Linked DNA regions of Homo sapiens: region 2 is linked to region 1. The links come from fine-mapping of genetic effects on gene expression. A gene starts in region 1. The other region holds a variant in brackets. All regions are shown on one strand. Distances are from middle to middle.

Region 1 (2,929 bases):
GCTATCCTTTTGGCCTTGGACTTTGCAACTCCTGGCATTAAGAGGCAAGCAAGCAGCTCCAGTCAAAGAAATTATCATGTTCTCCCCAGTCATACTCAATAACATCTATGTGAAACACCCCACGGGGAAGTCAAGAAGCAACAAATTATCATGTTCTCCCCAGTCATACTCAATAACATCTATGTGAAACACCCCACGGGGAAGTCAAGAAGCACAAAAGGGACCCGGAACAATTAATGGGTGTTTTTGAGACTGTCAGAGTAAACAGCATCTCCTGCAATAAATCAGGGAAGTCTTGAGAGTCGCACCTTAGAGATACGGTTCCTGCCAAATCATCAATTTAATCAGCAAAATGTTTACATCTGGAGGACTCTGCAATGTGCCCTGGTAATAACCAGGCTCTAGCGGCTCCTCCTCACATCCACTTGTCCTTAAGTTTATTTACCTACCAGATCTCACTGCAGCTGAAGCTAACAAGCCTCTCTATGCACATCAGTATTCTTAGCCCCTCAATCAAAGCATCAGTGAGGACTATTGGGGCCCGCTGGGGGTCTGAAGAAGAGTCCCTCTGGCAGGGAGAAATGGCGAACTTCTCTAAACAAGCTCTGTGTCTCACAGGTCTTTGCCAAGGATCAACAGTGACTAGCAAGTCTGTGAGACAGAAAGTAAGAAAATACTCTTCATGAGGGAAATAACTGTTTGGGTATGTGTCAGTCACTACTCCATCTCCAATGTCCAGAACACTGCCTCCTACGTAGCAAGTACATATAAAGCAACTAGAATAGTAACGGGCATGTCATAAGCCAGTTATAATTATTATAACTAAATGTATAGCTATGTTTTTAAGGCAAGCTGAACTTTACTAGTTGTTACCCATAATTTGGCAATGGAACAGCCTAAGTAAATACACTTAAAATGCAGGAACCTTATAAAGTAAGCTTTTCAGCCCCTTGTCTTCTTTCTTTCTGGTTCTGAGTTATACACTTTGAAGAGGACTTTGTAGCCATCTTCTGAAAACTTCCAAATCTAATGGCACTAATAGTCAATGGGAAAGACAGTGGAGCACTGCAGGACATCACCAATTATATTACAGAGCCTGAAAGGAACTAAAAATATGAAGACTTTCAAAATAGTAACACAGCACAAACACCAAAATGTTAACACACGAGGAGTTTATCTGAAGTCCTACTTGTGATCTATTTATCAGTAATGTTCAAATATGGGAAAATTAATGTGGGAAAAATGACAATGCAACACCTCTTATCTAGAATATGTCGACATTGGTGTCAAAATACTTCTTTATTCTGTTAATTCCGCATTTCCAGGTAGCTCCAACTACCCATCTCTGCACGTTATACTGTGAAGCTGCTGACAATTTTCTGAGGGTGCTTCAGAAAGAACCATATCTTACACATCAGTTCTCCACCTCATACCACATGTTGAATTTGACAATGGCAAAGGTTAGAAAAGAAAACAGGTTTTTGCCTGGCTGTGCATCAGATGATGTAGGGATGTGGGGAAAAGTAGGAGGAGAAATAAGAAAGCAGGACTGTTTTTGCATTACTGGAGGAAAGGAACTAGCTCAGAAGTCAGCCTAACACCCACAGAGATTAAAACGTCTCTTCCTTCCTCTTTGTTTCCACGTCCCAGTCTTCAATAAATTCTATCTGACAACAGCAGCAGAGGGACCCACTATCTTGTGGTTTCTGTCAAGTTCCTGATTTTCATCCGTAGTTGAAGATGAGCAAGAACTCTGTAACAGTGTTACCTTGGAGCCTACAATGAGAGGTATTTCAAAATGAGTGAAGCATGACTCTCACAGATGAAGGCCTAGACGCAGGTAAGAAAACAGCTTTTCCATGAAATGACTTGCATGTATGTGAATGGTGCATGGGAACAGAAAAGATTTCTGAGCTGGGCAGCAACAAAGCTGAGGAACACTGAACCATTGCCACTCACATTTTTCTCAGTAGGTTACTTTTTGTTTGACAACTATAATTGGTATATTAATATATTTCCCCATGCTAATATGGGGATCCAATACTGAAATATTATCATTTATGATTTAGGATTTCCAATCGTGGCTGTCAAAATATATCTGTGATGAAGAGATATCAAGGAAAATGTTTAAAAGGTATTCATCCAGGACAAACATTTCAAAAGCTCGTAAATGTGTATTAAAATTGCTTCTCAAAACTACAAAATCGATTAGCATAATACTTAGGTCAGTATGTCTTTGTTTGCAATTGCATATGTGTACAGATATATAGTTGCATTTACTTGTACATACACTTATATAGGTAAAAGTTTTTATCTTTGTCATTATTAGGATAAGTTAACCCCATTAACACCTACTAAAATAAAATGCCTTTAAATTGTAAATCACAGAAATATCTGTCCTAGGCATAGCAAATATTTGAGTTCATATGCTACTTATTTATAGTCTATGACTAATCAGCTAAATTACTTACAATTCTTTAAACATTATAAATTAAATTACATTCAGGAGAATTAGCACAGACCCACAATGTCAGCTTATTCAACCAAGCCCATGCAATCCATCTTGTCTACATATACTTTGTTAACCAAGGACAATCAATCCTACGGAGAAAATGAATCAAAGATCACACTAGTAAAAAAATAAATAGTTTGTATATTCATCTTTCTAAAACATACAAACTTGATAATCAGTTTTAGCACTAAAAAAAAACCTAGCCATTAAGTTAAAAAGAAAACAATGCACTCGGAAAATACCAAAATGGCATATTTTATGATTTGTAAACATGCAATGAATTTTATATTTCGGTAAAATTTATGAATACTATATATACAAACATGCATACAATTGTGTGCACACAATTAACACATTGGTATATATGAATGAACTCTATATTGTCATGTCTGGAAAAAAAAAAAACAAGGAGGCCAG
Region 2 (2,929 bases), 280 kb after region 1:
TCTGTGCCTCGAACCTGAGGGGATGAAGAGTCTGAAGCTACTGTCACCATCAAGCCATGAAGTTTGAAGTAGAAATGAACACAGTGAAAGGCTGAGAAAAGGTGGAGTAATACTGAACCTGGATGACTTCTTTTGAACCCTGACACCAGCACTACCCCTGATCTTTTCAGTTATATAAGCGCGAACAATTCCCTTCATGCCTAAGTCAGTTTAGGTTGGCGTTTCTGTTACTTGCAACCAAAAATCCTAGCTGACTGAGAAAATATGACAGATATAAAAAGAAAATAAGAGTAAATGGTCAGACAGCCAGAACCCAGGCCAGCAGTCCTGGGCATGAGCTTTCAGCAACCAGAGCATGGCCCCTTGATATTGCAGCAATGTTGCCCTTGAACAGAACCTAATCCCTGGCTGAGGTCAGCCAGCAACTGAAAAAGTTGGCCCACTCTGCTGACCTTGCAAGAATTGCTGCAGTCCCCACACCCTTCACACCTGACAGTCTTGCAGATTACTCTTCCTTCCTTTTCCACCACCCCTCAGGCTCTTAGCACCAATTCTTTTCCTCCCATCAACACTGCTTTGAGGAAAAAAGCTAGTTAATTCATTCACTCTAAGGTTTATATGACTCATATGTTCCTATTTGTTAAAATATCTACATTTCCAAAGGGCGCAAACTATCCTTTAAATTGCCTTCGTTCATTGCACCGTCTTTGAAGTCTAATTCATTGCAAACAAATGAATTTGTCGATGCCTGTATAGCTCTATATGACACAATGATACAGTACTTTATTAATCATTACAGAATACAGGAAGCCTCAGAGTTTACTTTCCTCCTATGCAGAAAAGTGCCCTAAAAAACATCAAGGAAACATCATCACCATCATCAATATTTATTAAACATTTATTATGTGTTTAGTATCGTAGGCATTGTTCTAAGCACTTTACATACATTATCTGATCGAATCCTCACTGCTACTCTATGAAGTAGCCACATCATGAATCTCATGTTGCAGCTGAAGAAATTAAGGTGTAGAGAAGTTAAGCAACTTGTTCAAGGTGACACAGATGCTAAGTTGAAGAAAACGATGGAGCAAAAGAAACTATTAGAGGAACCAAGGTGGAGCTGGCCTCTAGGGCTCTTCATAGGTCTTCTGGAGTTACAGCCAGGTATCTAATGAAATCATTGGCTGAAAATTTATTATATTTAAGTTACATAATTTAAGAGCCAAATGGAATGTCCAGTGTTCAATTAAGATGAGAGAAAAAAGAGAACCAGTCAGAGTATCAGAAATAAAACTAGATCACATATCTGCTACTTTCCAGTCTGAGCTCTTTGCATTCATTTATTCATTCATTCTATCATTCATTTGTCATAAGCATTCATGAACATAGAGAATGTTCTTTTACTACATATGGAAAATGTTGGGGCTGGCTACATTAAAAAAAAGTACAGGCATGCCTCATTTTATTGTGCTTTGCTTTGTTGTGCTTCACTGATATTT[T/C]GTTGTTTACAAATTGAAGGCTTGTGGCAACCTTGCCTTGAGAAAGCCTATTGGTGCCATTTTTCCAACAACATGTGCTCACACACAAATGATAAGAAAGTGAAACAGTCTTATTGCTGTTTAGTGGTCTGGATAGAAGATCAAACCAGCCACAATATTCCCTTTAAGCCAAAACCTAATCCAGAGCAAAATCCTAACTCTATTTAATTCTATAAAAGCTGAGAGAGGTGAGGAAGTTGCAGAAGAAAAGCTGAAAGCTAGCAGAGGCTGGTTCATGAGGTTTAAGGAAAGAAGCCATTTCTAGAACATAAAAGTGCAATGTGAAGCAGGAAGTGCTAATGTGGAAGCTACAGCAAGTTATCCAGAAGATCTAACTACAATCATTGATGAAGGTAACTAAACTGAATAACAGACTTTTAGTGAAAATGAAACAGCCTTCTGTTGGAAAAAAAAAATGCCATGTAGGGCTTTCATAGCTAGAGAGGAGAAGTCAAGGCCTGGCTTCAAAGTTTCAAAGGGCAGGCCAGGGGTGGTAGCACATTCCTGTAATCCTAACATTTTGCGAGGCTGAGGCAGGTGGACCACTTGAGGTCAGGAGCTTGAGACAAGCCTGGCCAACATGGTGAAACCCCATCTCTACTAAAAATACAAAAAATTAGCCGGGCATGGTGGCATGCACCTGTAATCCCAGCTACTCAGGGAGGCTGAGGCAGGAGAATCACTTGAACCTGGGAGGCAGAGATTGCAGTGAGATGAGATCACGACACTGCACTCCAGCCTGAGCAAGAGTGAGACTCCATCTAAAAAAAAAAAAAAAAAAAAAAAGCTTCTCTTCAAAGGGCAGGCCGTCTCTTTTATAAAGGGCTAACGTAGCTGGTGACTTTAAGTTGAAGCTTGTGCTCATTTACCATTTTGAAAATCCTAAGGCCCTTAAGAATTATGCAAAATCCAGTCTTCCTGTGCTCTATAAATGGAACAACAAAGCCAGGATGAGAGCACATCTGTTTACTGCATGGTTTACTGAATATTTTAAGCCCACTGTTCAGACCTACTGCTCAGAAAAAAAGCTTTCAAAATACTACTGCTCATTTGTAATGGACCTAGTCATCCAAGAGCTCTGATAGAGATGTAGAGGAGATGAATGTTCTCATGCCTGCTAACACAGTATCCATTCTGCCACCCATAGATCAAGGAGTAATTTTGACTTTCAAGTCATACTATTTAAGAAAAATATTTCATAAGGCGATAGCTGCCACAGTGATTCCTCTGATGGATGTGGGCAAAGAAAATTGAAACCCTTCTGGAAAGGAATTGCCATTCTAGATTCCATTAAAAACATTCATGATTCATGGGAGGGGGTCAAAATATTAATATAGAAGTTTGGAAGAAGTTGATTCCCAACCTCATGGATGACTTTGAGAGGTTCAAGA

The links.
Region 2: its variant is fine-mapped to the expression of P2RY14 in whole blood (TOPMed, PIP 0.98).

The regions. Positions count from the first base shown.
Region 1 is chr3:151,277,198-151,280,126 of GRCh38, reverse strand. It overlaps P2RY14 (purinergic receptor P2Y14), which reads left to right and starts at 1,585. Exons shown (of 3, transcript NM_014879.4): 1 at 1,585-1,840. The region is part of intron 16 of MED12L (mediator complex subunit 12L); the gene reads right to left.
Region 2 is chr3:150,993,230-150,996,158 of GRCh38, reverse strand. All of the region lies in intron 1 of CLRN1-AS1 (CLRN1 antisense RNA 1), which reads right to left. Among named protein-coding and RNA genes, the nearest start is that of CLRN1, 22 kb to the right of the region's middle. The variant T/C (reference allele first, on the strand shown) is at 1,500.